4 linked regions of the Homo sapiens genome follow. The protein of the gene in region 1 purifies or fractionates together with the protein of each later gene. This does not show direct contact. Each region holds a gene or a part of one and is shown in the gene's direction. Other genes may lie near its edges.

Evidence for each region.
Region 2: the proteins of SPATA33 (region 1) and AP1S2 purify together in Homo sapiens (affinity purification with mass spectrometry; one large-scale study listed by BioGRID and IntAct). This does not show direct contact.
Region 3: the proteins of SPATA33 (region 1) and KCNE3 purify together in Homo sapiens (co-immunoprecipitation; one large-scale study listed by IntAct). This does not show direct contact.
Region 4: the proteins of SPATA33 (region 1) and PPP3R1 purify together in Homo sapiens (affinity purification with mass spectrometry; one large-scale study listed by BioGRID and IntAct). This does not show direct contact.

Annotation. Positions count from the first base shown.
Region 1 is NC_000016.10:89,660,833-89,664,404, forward strand, and holds part of SPATA33 (spermatogenesis-associated protein 33), read left to right. Parts: exon of another isoform or gene 1-676; intron 677-3,572. UniProt on the Homo sapiens protein: Plays an important role in sperm motility and male fertility. Required for sperm midpiece flexibility and for the localization of sperm calcineurin to the mitochondria. Promotes mitophagy as well as acts as an autophagy mediator in male germline cells.
Region 2 is NC_000023.11:15,828,059-15,830,884, reverse strand, and holds part of AP1S2 (AP-1 complex subunit sigma-2), read left to right. Parts: exon of another isoform or gene 1-826; intron 827-2,684; coding exon 2,685-2,693; intron 2,694-2,826. UniProt on the Homo sapiens protein: Subunit of clathrin-associated adaptor protein complex 1 that plays a role in protein sorting in the late-Golgi/trans-Golgi network (TGN) and/or endosomes.
Region 3 is NC_000011.10:74,461,015-74,464,586, reverse strand, and holds part of KCNE3 (potassium voltage-gated channel subfamily E member 3), read left to right. Parts: exon of another isoform or gene 1-325; intron 326-1,731; exon of another isoform or gene 1,732-1,905; intron 1,906-2,454; exon of another isoform or gene 2,455-2,483; 5' UTR 2,484-2,632; intron 2,633-3,572. UniProt on the Homo sapiens protein: Ancillary protein that functions as a regulatory subunit of the voltage-gated potassium (Kv) channel complex composed of pore-forming and potassium-conducting alpha subunits and of regulatory beta subunits.
Region 4 is NC_000002.12:68,186,521-68,190,092, reverse strand, and holds part of PPP3R1 (calcineurin subunit B type 1), read left to right. Parts: intron 1-1,402; coding exon 1,403-1,579; intron 1,580-2,778; coding exon 2,779-2,838; intron 2,839-3,440; coding exon 3,441-3,572. UniProt on the Homo sapiens protein: Regulatory subunit of calcineurin, a calcium-dependent, calmodulin stimulated protein phosphatase. Confers calcium sensitivity.

The DNA of each region.
Region 1 (3,572 bases):
CCCTAAGCCCTTCCAGCCCAGGAGCCAGACCTGTGAGCAAACAAGCCTTTAGTGATTCCAGGCTCTGGCTGGAACCTTGAGTCTTCTCAGCTTGGGGCATGCACCTCAGGGGGAGCCAGCATCAGTGTCCAGCCCCAAGAGCTTCCCTGTACGTCTCAGTGAGTCTTCACATGCCTCCAACTGCCTGGACAACCACACGTGATACCTGTCCTGCCAAACGTGTCCTGAACCCATAAAATCCAGAGAAAAGAAAATCGTTTTAAACTGCTGAGGTTTGGGGTAAGTTACTATGAAGCAGTAGTGAGAAGAACAGAAGGGCCATGATGGGGAGAAAGTTTGGCCATAAGTTAATCACTGTGGCAGCTGTTAGGATATTGATGTGGCTTGGCTGTGTCCTCACCCAAATCTCATTTTGAATTCCCACATGTGGGAGGAACTGGGTGGGAGGTGATTGAATTATGGGGGCAGGTCTTTCCTGTGCTGTTTTCGTGATAGTGAATGAGTGTCACGAGATCCGATGGTTTTAAAAACGGGAGTTTCCTGCATAAGCTCTCTCTCTGCCTGCTGCCATCCATGTAAGATGTGACTCGCTCCTCCCTACCTTCCGCCGTGATTGTGAGGCGTCCCCAGCCATGTGGAACTGTAAGTCCATTAAACCTTCTTCCTGTGTAAATTATTCAGTCTCTGGTATGTCTTTATTAGCAGCATGAAAACGGACTAATACAGATAGATGTATTATACTGTTACCCCTACTACTTCTGTATATGCTTAAATTTTTGCATTACAAAATTCACAAACATACAAACATTATAGAGAACTAACATCACAGATTTACAGTCACCTTATTCCACAATGTTGGAAATTCTACCACAAATAAAGAACTTGAAAAAAAAGGAGGGGATGTTAGAAGGAAATCTGAGCGACCTAGACCTGGGCTCAGTCACGCCTGAGACAGTCAGATGGGGTATCTGAGGATGAGTCAGTGTTAATTTTCTCAGACCTGGGCTCCGTCACTCCTGAGACAGTCAGATTGGGTATTTGAGGATGAGTCCGTGTTAATTTTCTTAGATGTGGGAATGCTATTATAGTTACGCTAAAACACAATCCCTATCTAATAAATACACTGCAACATTTATGGGTAAAATCATATGTCTGAAATTCCTTAAAGATACTCAGAATGCCAGGCATGGTGGCTCATGCTGTCATCCCAGCACTTTGGGAGGCCGAGACGGGTGGATCACTTGAGGTCAGGAGTTCGAGACCAGCATGGCCAACATGGTGAAACCCTGTCTCTACAAAAAATACAAAAAAATTAGCTGGGTGTGGTGGTGCACACCTGTAATTCCAACTACTTTGGAGGCTGAAGCAAGAGAATAGCTGGAACCCAGGAAGCAGAGGTTGCAGTGAGCCACGATCATCCCACTGCACTCCAGCCTGGGCAATGGAGTGAGACTCCATCTCAAAAAAAAAAAAGATACTCAGGAAAAAAACGAAGAAAGAACAAGATAACAAAATACTGATTGAAGCTGAGTGCTCTATAGGTGCAGGTGCTCATTCACTATTCTATTTTCTTGTGTGTTTGAACACTTTTTTTTTTTTTTGAAATGGAGTTTCCTTCTTGTTGCCCAGGCTGGAGTGCAATGGCATGATCTCGGGTCTCAACTCACTGTAGCCTCCGCCTCCCAAGTTCAAGTGATTCTCCTGCCTCAGCCTCCCAAGTAGCTGGGATTACAGGCGCCCGCCATGACGCCCAGCTAATTTTTTTTGTATTTTTAGTAGAGATGAGGTTTCGCCACGTTGGCTAGGCTGGCCTCAAACTCCTGGCTTCAGCTGATCCACCCGCCTCGGCCTCCCAAAGTGCTGAGATCACAGGCGTGAGCCACCGCACCTGGCCTCCCAGAGCGCTGGGATCACAGGCGTGAGCCACCACGCCCAGCCTGTTTGAACACTTTTGTGACGTTTTGTTGTTTGTTTGTTTTGAGATGGAGTCTTGCTCTGTTGCCCAGGCTGGAGTGCAGTGGCACAATCTTGGCTCATTGTGACTTCCGCCTCCCGGGTTCAAGCAATTCTTCTGCCTCAGCCTCCCGAGTAGCTGAGACTACAGGTGTGCGCCACCATGCCTGGGTAATTTTTGTATTTTTAGTAGAGACGGGGTTTCACCATGTTGGTCAGGCTGGTCTCAAACTCCTGACTTTGTGAACCACCCGCCTCAGCCTCCCAAAGTGCCAGTGTTACAGGTGTGAGCCACCACGCCCGGCCTGTAACATTTTCATGAAGGTAGAGTATACTTAATTGCAAGAAAATTTTGAAAAAGAAGAGAAATGGAACACTTCTATTGGCTATTAAAAAATACCATGCTGAGTGAAAAAAGCCAATCCCAGAAGGTCACATGCTGTATGATTCCATTTCTTTTTTTTTTTTTTTTAGGCTGGAGTGCAAATGGCACGATCTTGGCTCACTGCAACCTTGGTCTCCCGGGTTCAAGCAATTCTACCTCGGCCTCCGGAGTAGCTGGGACTACAGGCATGCGCCACCATGCCCAGCTAATCTTTGTATTTTTAGTAGCGATGGGGTTTCTCCATGTTGGTCAGGCTGGTCTCAAACTCCCGACCTCAGGTGATCCGCTTGCCTCAAACTCCCGATCTCAGGTGATCCGCTTGCCTCGGCCTCCTGAAATGCTAGGATTACAGGCGTGAGCCACCATACCCGGCCGTGATTCCATTTCTGTAACATTCTCTGAATGACAAAATTATAGACAGGGAGGACAGATTGTTGATTGCTAGGGCCTTGGCGTTGGGGTAGGGAGTGAGGGGGTCTGTGAAGGGCAGGGCTTTGGGGTTGGGGTAGGGAGTGGGTGTGTCTGAAGGGCAGCAGGAGGAAGATGGGATTGTTGGTTTTGGTGGTGATTGATTAAATGGCGTAGCTGTACATACACTCATAGTACCGGAGTCCATTTCCTCGTGTCGATAATGGTACTATAGTTATATAAAACGTTCGCTTTGGGAGCCAAGCACAGTGGCTCACGCCTGTAATTTCAGAACTTTGGGAAGCCTAGGCAGGCAGATCACTTGAGCCCAGAAGTTCAAGACCAGCCTGGGCAACATGGTGAAACCTGATTTTTACAAAAAAGACAAGAATTAGCTGGGTGTAGTGGAGTGTGCCTGTAGCCCCAACTAATCAGGGGCCTGAGATAGGAGGATCCCTTGACCCCATGAGGTTGGGGCTGCAGTGAGCCAAGATCGTGCCACTGCCCTCCAGCCCCGGCGACAGAGTAAGACCCTATTTATGCTTCCTAGCAAGGAAAGACAGTACACATATTGAAGAATTTGACTGCGTTAAAATGTTAAACCTCTCCCCAAACTCTTATAAACAATTGTAGAACAAATGATAAGCTCAAAAAAATATTTACATCTATGAGAGGCCAAAGAATATCAGTTGACTCTGGATCAGGGGCTCGGACACGTTGCTGTGGAGGCACACATCTTCCTGGAAGGCGGTTTGGTAACAAGGTGGCAGGACTCAAGACAGCCCACACGATCCCTGCCCCTGGGAAACAGCCATGTGTAACCCTC
Region 2 (2,826 bases), on another chromosome or scaffold:
TAATATCAAACAATCCCTTTAAGAACTTATTAGAGAGCTATGTCTGAAGTCTGTTCTGCAATATCTGTTGCTGAATAATAACTCTTTCAAAGCATTAATGCTGAGTTTATATAGTTCAAAAATTCTAATATTCATTCAGTTTTAATACCTAAATACTTATATTTTACTAGTGATGGCATTCTAATATATTAAGTCCTCATTTAAATACTTGATACTTTGTTAACTGTGGCATTATATTTCTGAATTTTAAAACCTTTAATATTGGTAACTATTGCATATTCTTTTAATAAAACATGCAGCATATTTTTTTATAAAAGGAAAAGAATTCATTGTTTATATCTAGAGAGCATAAAGCCTAAGTTAAGTAAGTTATTAAACAATAACTTCACAAGATGTTCAAATCGATTTATCACTGAAAGAAGATCTATGAAAATGTGTTTTGACCAAACTTAGTATTAGGCAGGTACACAGATAAGATTTTCCATTCTTAACATTCTCACTGTAATGCACGACATTTGAAGCACCTGGATGTGCTATCAATCAGGTGGGAAATTTAGCATTATATATTGGAAGCATTGAGAAACATTGGTCTTTCATTTCTATTTTTTTTTCCCCTCCTTTCCTCCTCCTGCCCCACAATATATTATTCATCTGGTTTTAATGCTACATAAATATGCATTGTCTCATGCCTGTTTGTGTTGGATGCCTTGTGCTAAGCTGTAACAAAATGTTGCTTCTTTTGCTGTCTGTATACAGCTGCTTGCTTTAAATTAGTAGATTCTGAAATAGCTTTCCTTGCATGTCTAAAATAAAAGTATTGCATGTACTTCGTCTCATGTGAATGACTTTTTCTTTTCCATCCCTCATAAAATAACGTTTTATATTTTCATTTTTCTAGGCAAATTTTTTAAATTGTGGTTAAAAACACATAACACAGAATTCACCATCTTACGCAGTTTTAAGTGTACAGTTCAGTTGTGTTAGTTAAGTTTATTCACATTGTTGTGCAGCAGATCTGCAGGACTTTTTCATCTGGCAGAACTGAAACTCTATACCCATTAATCAACAATTCCCCATTTCTCCCTGTCCCCCAGCCCCTGGCAACCACCATTCGACTTTCTGTTTCTATAAATTTTACTACTTTAGATAGATAATAGTTTTTCTGGGTAGTTTTGAGCTACAATTTCAGTGTGAACATGTGTAAGTTCCATTTTATATTATCACCACAATTTATTTTAAAACTCTACCTGTGCAAGTCTCACAAGAATAAAATGTGTAAATAATTCTTTGAAACTAGGCCTTTTAGAAAGGACACATATTTTCAATAATGCATATTTGATAAGCAGTATGATTCTCTACAGGAAATGCTATATAAGATTGCAGGCAGTGAGCACATGGGGAAAAGTCTGACCAGCTCCACGGAGTAGCTGTGGGGCATTTTTACATGGAGAAGCTGAGAATGTAAACTGTAGAATTCAATGGAGGCATTATTTAATTGATACATTCAAGGCTACATGAACCTTTAAACTACTTAACATTACATGGAAATAATTATTTTAAATTTTTCTTGAATATTTATGAGATTTAGATGTCATTCTCAGTGTATTTAATGCTTAAGGCTAAATATAAATGAAAGGGATTGGCTTACATCACTCTTGGGTGTTACATCATTTCCACTGGACTTTCTTAAAAAACTTTATCATGAAAACTTCAAGACTCACGAGTATAGGAAATAGTATAAAGAACCCTCGTGTACACATCACTGAGCTTCAAGAACCATCAACTTAATACTGTTTCCCCAACCACTCCCCGCATTTTTGCCTCAGTATCTTAGAGCAAGCCCTAGACATCTTGTCAGTTTGTCTTTAATACTTCAGTATGTGTCCCTAACAGATAAAGTACCATGCCCCACAAAATTAACAGGAATTAATAATTACTATCTTATGCCTGGCTCAATTTTTCCTAATTGTCTGAAAAATGCCTTTTTATATTTGGTTTGTTAGAATCAGATTCCAACCAAGACTCTCACATTGTATCTGATTGATGTGCGTTTTAAGTCTCTTTTAATCTTTAACAAATCGTCTGCTTTTTCCCGCCTTGCCATTTTTTTTTTTTAAAACGAGGTCATTTATGCTGCAGGATGTCCTACCTTATGGATTTGGCCATCATACTCATATGGCAATGTTTAGCTGTTCTTATATCCCTCATTTCTATTTAGATCTGTAACCTGACTAGATTGAGGTTCAATTTGAGGGGGCAAGAATACTTCATAGGTTAGACTCTTTTTAAAAAAATACCTTTTTTCGCTAAAGCTGATTTTTACCCATTTTTATTACTATGCAGACATACTAAAAGGTCATCATATGAGCTTTATAAGTAGAATTGGTGTATAGTACTTGCGTTTAATAATAAATGCTAAATCATTTCGATTTCAATTGTGTAACTATATCACCTAACATTTTTGAAGCACTTTCTATAAATTAGGCAGAGCCTTAATTCACTTAATCTCAACATATGAAGGTAAGTACTATTATCCATGTTTTCCAAATAAGGAAACAGACCATAGAGTTTAAGTAATTTACTTAAGATTACACCATGAAGTGCTTTACATGCAATTAATATTCTAAAGATTTATGGTTTAATATAATTTCTCTTCTCCTTGCTTTGTGCTGTACCATGATTAGGATGCGAAAGTAAGTTTATTACTGGATGCCAAAAATTTATATTATTTTCCATCATTAAAATATAGTGTTGCCTTTTAATTACAAAATTCGTTGCTAGTAATACCTGAAAGTTGGCCTCCTTGGTCCTTTATTTTGTGATTTG
Region 3 (3,572 bases), on another chromosome or scaffold:
CACTGGTTGAATGAGGGGGTTGCACCAACAACATGATCATGAAGATCTCTTCCAGCTCAGATTCTATTCCTTTGTCCTTCCAACTGGATGCTAAGGGCTACTCCTTCAACTCCTCTCCCACTCCACCAGCTCTCCAATCCACAGGAGTGGTAAGACCACCAAGGGGACAGTGGTAAAACTGTGCACCCCAGGAACTGTCTTTGGATCACCTACCTGCTTTATGTGACTTTTTCTACCTACCTCTCTGTACTTCATTTCCAGACACTGAAGACGCTCATTCTGAAAGAGTAGCTGAAACGGAGTGACGGGAAAGAAAGACCCAAGGGTAGAGTTTCACTTTTCCCCAGAGCAACCTGAATGAAAACCCCACTAAGATCCCCAGTTCATCCCTCAGATCACAGCTTTATTCCCCAACTTCCAAGTTAGGGGTTGGACAAGTGTAAGGCAAGTGCAGTTTGTGAGAACCTGTGAATGTATGGGAAATAGCAGGAACAGAGAGTGAACCTGGCTCATCTGGGGAATCAGGAGTAGGTCTGGAGCAGTGGGGTGCATGGAAGATGAGAGCATAAACGAAGTCTAACTCCTCCTCCCAAGCTTACCAACCTCCATCTCACTGGATCATTGACTAAGATTGGCGAGAATCTGTGGTGCATGAAAAGGCCATAGTGACGAAGTTAGAGGAGATGATGCCCCATGACACTAACAGGCTGTGTCTGGTGTGATGTGAAGCTTAGGTGTGAGGAAACACTGCCATTTGTAGTGGAAAGAGCACCTGAACAGTAGCCCAAACACCTGGGTTCTTGTCTGAGTGCTGCCATTTATGGGCCATGTCATTTTGGACTAGTCACTTCTCCCTTCTGAGCCTCAGTTTCCTCATCTACGAAATGGAGGGGTTGGCCTGGAATCTAGATTCTAGATGATCCTTAAAGTCCCTCTCAGCTTGGCCATCTGCTCACCTTCCTTCCTCACTGGCCTATCTTCTATTTCAAGGCAAGACCTCTCCAGGGCAGGAGCTCCATCTCCCCCATCCAAGGATCTCAGTAATCAGGGACTCTCCTGGACAGGGAAGCCAAGGAGCTCAGAAACAGTGGCAAAACTCCCCTGTTGCTGACTGCCAGTCCCCAGCTTGAGCCCCAGAGGCAGCCCCAGAGCCCCATAGAGAACCAACTTGTGCCTTCATCAGCTTTCTGCCTCTCCTAACGCAGACAGGAGGCCCTGGCACCCCAGCCTTCCCTCCCATACAAACCCAGCACCTAGAGATGTGGAACTATGGCCCCTTTCCTCCTCCTGTCAGAAGCACAAACATCCTAGTCTATTCAGAGAGACCCTGAGGCATGAAAGGTCTCATGAATCTTTATTCCCCTCATGGAACCCTGCCTCAAAGCCCACCCTACCCTCCACACTGTCCCCTTCCCCCACCTTCTGCAGAGTCTATCCCCTCCTCAGGCTAGATCATCCTGGCAGGTGAGCTGTGAAGAGGAAAAATGAGTAAATCTCTCAGTTTGGCTCGACTGGGATATTAGATGTCAGTCAGTCCCAGGGCTCAGAAGCATCTTAACCTGTGAGGAAGAGGTCCACAGCCTTCTCTATCTTGGGATTTGAGAAGCTCTAGAAAGCCCCCAAAATGCCTCTCCCATCAGCCTCTCCAACTTCCCATGGTCTCACAGCATGGTTTCATGATTCGTATCATCACAGGACGTTAGAACCAACTGAGACCCCTTCATTTTACAGATGCGGACAGAAGCTGAGGCCCAGAAAAGGGAAGTCTTATGTCCAAAGTCACACAAGGAGCAGCTGAGCTGGGACAACTCCCCTGGTTTCCATTTCCTTCACCGTAAAGTGAGGGCATATAGCCTAGATGGGCTCTGAAGGCCCTTCCAGCCTTGCTCTACAAAAACAACCACCGTATGTGCAGTGTCTAGTGCCAAGCACTACATGATGTTCTTTAATTTTCACAACAAAGCTATGCTACAGATAGTGTTCATTCTGTGACCGTGTTCATATCCTGTCTATCTGAATAGATTGGGTGGTAACACATCATTTGTTCCTATGTAAAATATCAACCCAGCTGCCAGTTGGCATTCTCCCACTCATGTCAATTCCCTTGGGATTCGAAAAGGACCTTGCTAAGGTAACCCTTAGGAAAGGGAATGTTTTAGGCTGCACCATCAGCTGGTCCCTGAGTGGGAGTCCACATTTTAAACAGGTTTCTCATGAAGTCACCCAGTGAAGACACTGTAAGTCTGGAGGTAGGGGACAGCAATCAGAGGCCCTTTGGTCACTGCACAGTTCCTTTAACTGCAACCCTAGGCTGGCCTGACCCAGCTGCTGCAGGAAGGGGAGGGGCCATGGGAGGGGGTCAGAGCCCACAGCAGGACTGTTGCATAATCCTTGGGGCCTGGCCTTGGGCAATCCACCCTGGTTCTGAAGTTTGTGCTTTGTGTCTGGTTCCTTCCTTTTCTGCCTTCTCTCCTGCTTTCTAGCTCTGGGCTTTCCCAGCTCCGAAGTCAATACTGAGATCCCAGATGTGTCCAGAGACATCCTGAAGAGGCTCGGGGGTGGAGGAGCCTTAGTGTGTCCACAAAGGGACTCCTGAAACTGACTGAGAGCCAGTGGATTTGCCAGCAGTCTGGTGAGTCTTCCAGATTGAGATTTCCCTCCCTCTCCCTGTCAGTTAAAACCCCTTTCCAATGATACCTAAGAAAACTGAATGGTAACTGCCCTGCCCTGGGATGGAGCTTGGGACGACTAGGAGCTTTCACCTTCACTGTATGTGCTGCGTCCATTCTTTTTTTTTTTTTTTAAACCTATGTGTACATATTTGCTTCTTGAAAATAAAAAAAAAGTTTTTAATCCTCTTCTACATAATACAAGTATATGCTCATAGCAAGCCTTGAAGGAGGAGGGAAAGGATGATCATCTTTCTTTGTGGGGTTTTTTGTTTGTTTGTTTGTTTGTTTTTTGAGACAGAGGTCTTGCTTTCCTGCCCAGGCTGGAGTGCAGTGGTGTGATCTCGGCTCACTGCAACTTCCACCTCCTGAGTTCAAGCGGTTCTCCTGCCTCAGCCTCCTGAGCAGCTGGGAATACAGGCGTGTACCCGGCTAATTTTTGTATTTTTAGTAGAGACGGGGTTTCTCCACGTTGGCCAGGCTGGTCTCGAACTCCTGACCTCAGGTGACCCACTGGCCTCAGCCTCCCAAAGTACCGGGATTAAAGGAGTGAGGCACCACAGCTGGCCTATTTTTTAAAATTGTGCTTAAAACACACACACACACACACACACACACACACACAAAACATAAAAATATACCATCTTAGTCATTCTTGAGTGTACACTCAGTAGTGTTAACTAGATTCACCTTGTTGTGCAGCAGATCCCCAGAATCTCCTCATCTTGTAAAATTGAAACTCTATACCTACCATACAACAACTCCATGATAATGTCTTTTGGTAGATGAGGAAACCAAAGCCCACCCAGGGAAAGGAACTTATTTCCTTCAGAGTAGGCTCATCAAGACACTTACACTGTTTGTTTGTTGTCTACCTATGAAATTGCCTGAGGCCCCTTCCTC
Region 4 (3,572 bases), on another chromosome or scaffold:
TAGTTCTATTTTAATATAATTTATATTTAAAATATATGCTTTAATTTTTAAGTTCTTACAGTGAGGATGCCATATATTTAAGCTGTCAAAACAGCTTGTATTTGTACTCTTTTCTAGTGTTGTGGGCCATAATACATATATACTCATGGGCAGTATAACATTTGCCTTCTTAATTTTCTTTTTAAAAGTTGTTGTATTTAATTTATTTTTATTTTTAATTTTTTGAGATGGAGTCTCACTCTGTCACTCAGGCTGGAAAGCAGTGGCGTGATCTCAGCTTACTGCAACCTCCGCCTCCTGGGTTCAAGCGATTCTCCTGCTTCAGCCTCCTGAGTATCTGGGATTAGAGGTGCGTGCCACCATGCCCGGCTTATTTTTGTATTTTTAGTAGAAGTGGGGTTTTTACCATGTTGGCCAGGCTGGTCTGTAACTCCTGACCTCTAGTAATCTGCCCACATTGGCCTCCCAAAGTGCTGGGATTACAAGCGTGAGCCATTGCGCCTGGCCCGTTGTATTTAATTTAAAAAATATATTTGTAATTATTTCTATAAAGTCATGATCAAAATTACTTATGTGTATTAGTCAGATATTTTAAAGGAATGAAAATGATGTAATTTAGAAGAAAATAGCTTAAACCTGTTGTTTCAAGAATTTATATAAGAGACCTGACACTGAATTTTTATGGATTACTTACAAACTAATGTAAACATTTCTTTTTAGTTATTCTTTCTCTTTTAAAGTGTTGATAAGTGAATTTTGTTAGCTATTTGGTTGTTAAGTAAAAACTGGCTTATTTGCTCAAACTTGCAAAGTATCTCTGGAAGAATATTTAGGAAACTGGCAACGTTGCTTTCAGAGAAAGGAAATGGATATCTCGGGGTGGGAAGGGAGGGAAACTTTGAATTTTGAATACCCTTTGAATTTTTGAGTCATGAACTATTAGAAATAAAGTAAATTAAAATTTAACAAGAAAAATGAAAATGAAAGTACTTCGGTTTACAGAACAGAGGTTGATTGAACCTGTCTGGTAGAACCTCCGTGATCAGCTTAGCATTGTCAGTCCTGAAATAATCTTTTGTGACCTCCATGATCAGCTTAGCATTATCCGGCCTGGAATATCTTGAGACTCAGCATACAGCGGATGTATGTAATGGCAGGTGCAAACAAACAGAAAGGTAACCAAATACAAGTATTTATGCTGTACTTACTCTATTAGAATAAATTAGTTAACATAATATATACCTCTTTTTATCAAATTGGAAATTAAACTATTGGATAACTGTTAGATTTTTTTTCCCCCCTATAACTATTAAAATTTTTTTTAAAATCTTGCTACTGCCCATTAGAAAGGATTTGGGAACATTTTTAAAAAATTCTTGCTTCCTTTTTTGTTTGCTTTTAGTTGATGCGGATGAAATTAAAAGGCTAGGAAAGAGATTTAAGAAGCTTGATTTGGACAATTCTGGTTCTTTGAGTGTGGAAGAGTTCATGTCTCTGCCTGAGTTACAACAGAATCCTTTAGTACAGCGAGTAATAGATATATTCGACACAGATGGGAATGGAGAAGTAGACTTTAAAGGTAAGAAAGTAGTTATTTTTTATAACCACAAGTTATCTAACCTATTTGTATTCTTACAGCTCTGTGTAAAAAAAAAAAAAAAGTGCTTATATTCCTAGTGACCTTACAATAATAGATTATGTTAAAACCTCAGCGTCTGTGGCATATACACCTTAATGAACTAGGACATTTTACTCTGTGGTTCATAAATGATTAAGTCATTCTTTAGGATAATCTACCAAAAAGCAGGGGGGACTCAGTATTTCCTTTCTTTTTAGAAAATTAATCTCACTTTAGGGCAATACTGTATATTCTTATATACATTAGAAGCTGCAATTCCTTTTATTTATTTATTTAATTTTTTTGAGATGGAGTCTCGCTCTTTTGCCCAGGCTGGAATGTGGTGGTATAATCTCGGCTCACTGCAGCCTCCGCCTCCTGAGTTCAAGCAATTCTCCTGTCTCAGCCTCTTGAGTAGCTGGGATTACAGGCATGTGCCACCACACCTGGCTAATTTTTGTATTTTTAGTAAAAACGAGATTTCACCATGTTGGCCAGGCTGTGGTCTCGAACTCCTGACCTCAAGTGATCCACGTGCCTCAACCTCCCAAAATGCTGGGATTACAGGCATGAGCCACCGCGCCAAGCCAGTTTTTTTTTTTGTTTGTTTTAACAAGTAAATAAACATTTCACAAGGGATTTGTCAATAGATTTTATTTTAGTTTGGACAATTATAAGTGGAGGGATATAAAACTGATTATGATTTAGTGCTTATCAGGCAGTGAAGAAAAATGATCATTTGTCATGAAACTTCTAACAGCATATTTGATTCACAATTTTGAAACAGAAGGCTAAAGTTTTTTGTGTGTGTCAGAACAATTTATAGTGGGTTTTTTTTTAAAGCCCCTTGTTACAGTCATATTCTAAGAGGGAAGAGTTAAACAACTTAAATAATATGTTTTGAGTGTTCTTTTATCTTGCACTTAACAAATGTTTGTTCAAATTGATTGACCTTAGAGAACTCCAAGTTCAAATAAAAAAAATACAGAGAGACCTTGTTTGTTGAGGTTTCAAATTTGGCAATTTTATTTTTAAACGTTGCTAGTAGTACTTCTGTTTTGCAGCAAGGAAATATCCTTTTGTGGGTATGTAAGGTAAATATGTTTTTTGTGTAAAAAATTGGAAGTTCTGATTTGTGAACATTTTTAACTCTTATTCAGAATTCATTGAGGGCGTCTCTCAGTTCAGTGTCAAAGGAGATAAGGAGCAGAAATTGAGGTGTAAGTATTTTTCTTCACTGACTTCATTCTCTTATACTACCATCATTTCATACTGTATTATAGAATGCTTTTTAAAATAATGAAAAAGATGTCTTTTATTCCAGATCCTTAGACATAACTGAAATTTTACATTCTGGTGAAAATCCTTTTAGGACATTTCCAACTACTATATTTGAATAATGTGTCATTGCTGCTTTTAGTTGGATAGAAGGAAAACAGTTTCTTTCTGCTGAAAACAGCCATGTAAAACTACATATGTAATTTAGAGAAGAGATTTTTTTAGTGAAAGTGGGAAGAAATGTTCTAAAGAACCGGAGAGGTTGGAGTTGTTACTATATCCAGTTTTATCTGTGTAGAAACTGAAGCTTAGCAGGGATAGTTAACCTACTCTAAGCTCCACCAAATCTGCTCAGGCAGTCTCAAAAGCCCGTACGTTTAACCAACTATGTTAAACTGTGCCTAAGGACAACTCTATTTTAAGGAAGGAGACATCCTCATAGTCATAATTTTGATGTTTGTCAGTTTACTATTTTCTTTCTTACTGAAAGCATTTACTTGTGATTGCTTTGTAATTGGAATTGATTTTCCTTCCTTTTTTTTAGTTGCTTTCCGTATCTATGACATGGATAAAGATGGCTATATTTCCAATGGGGAACTCTTCCAGGTATTGAAGATGATGGTGGGGAACAATCTGAAAGATACACAGTTACAGCAAATTGTAGACAAAACCATAA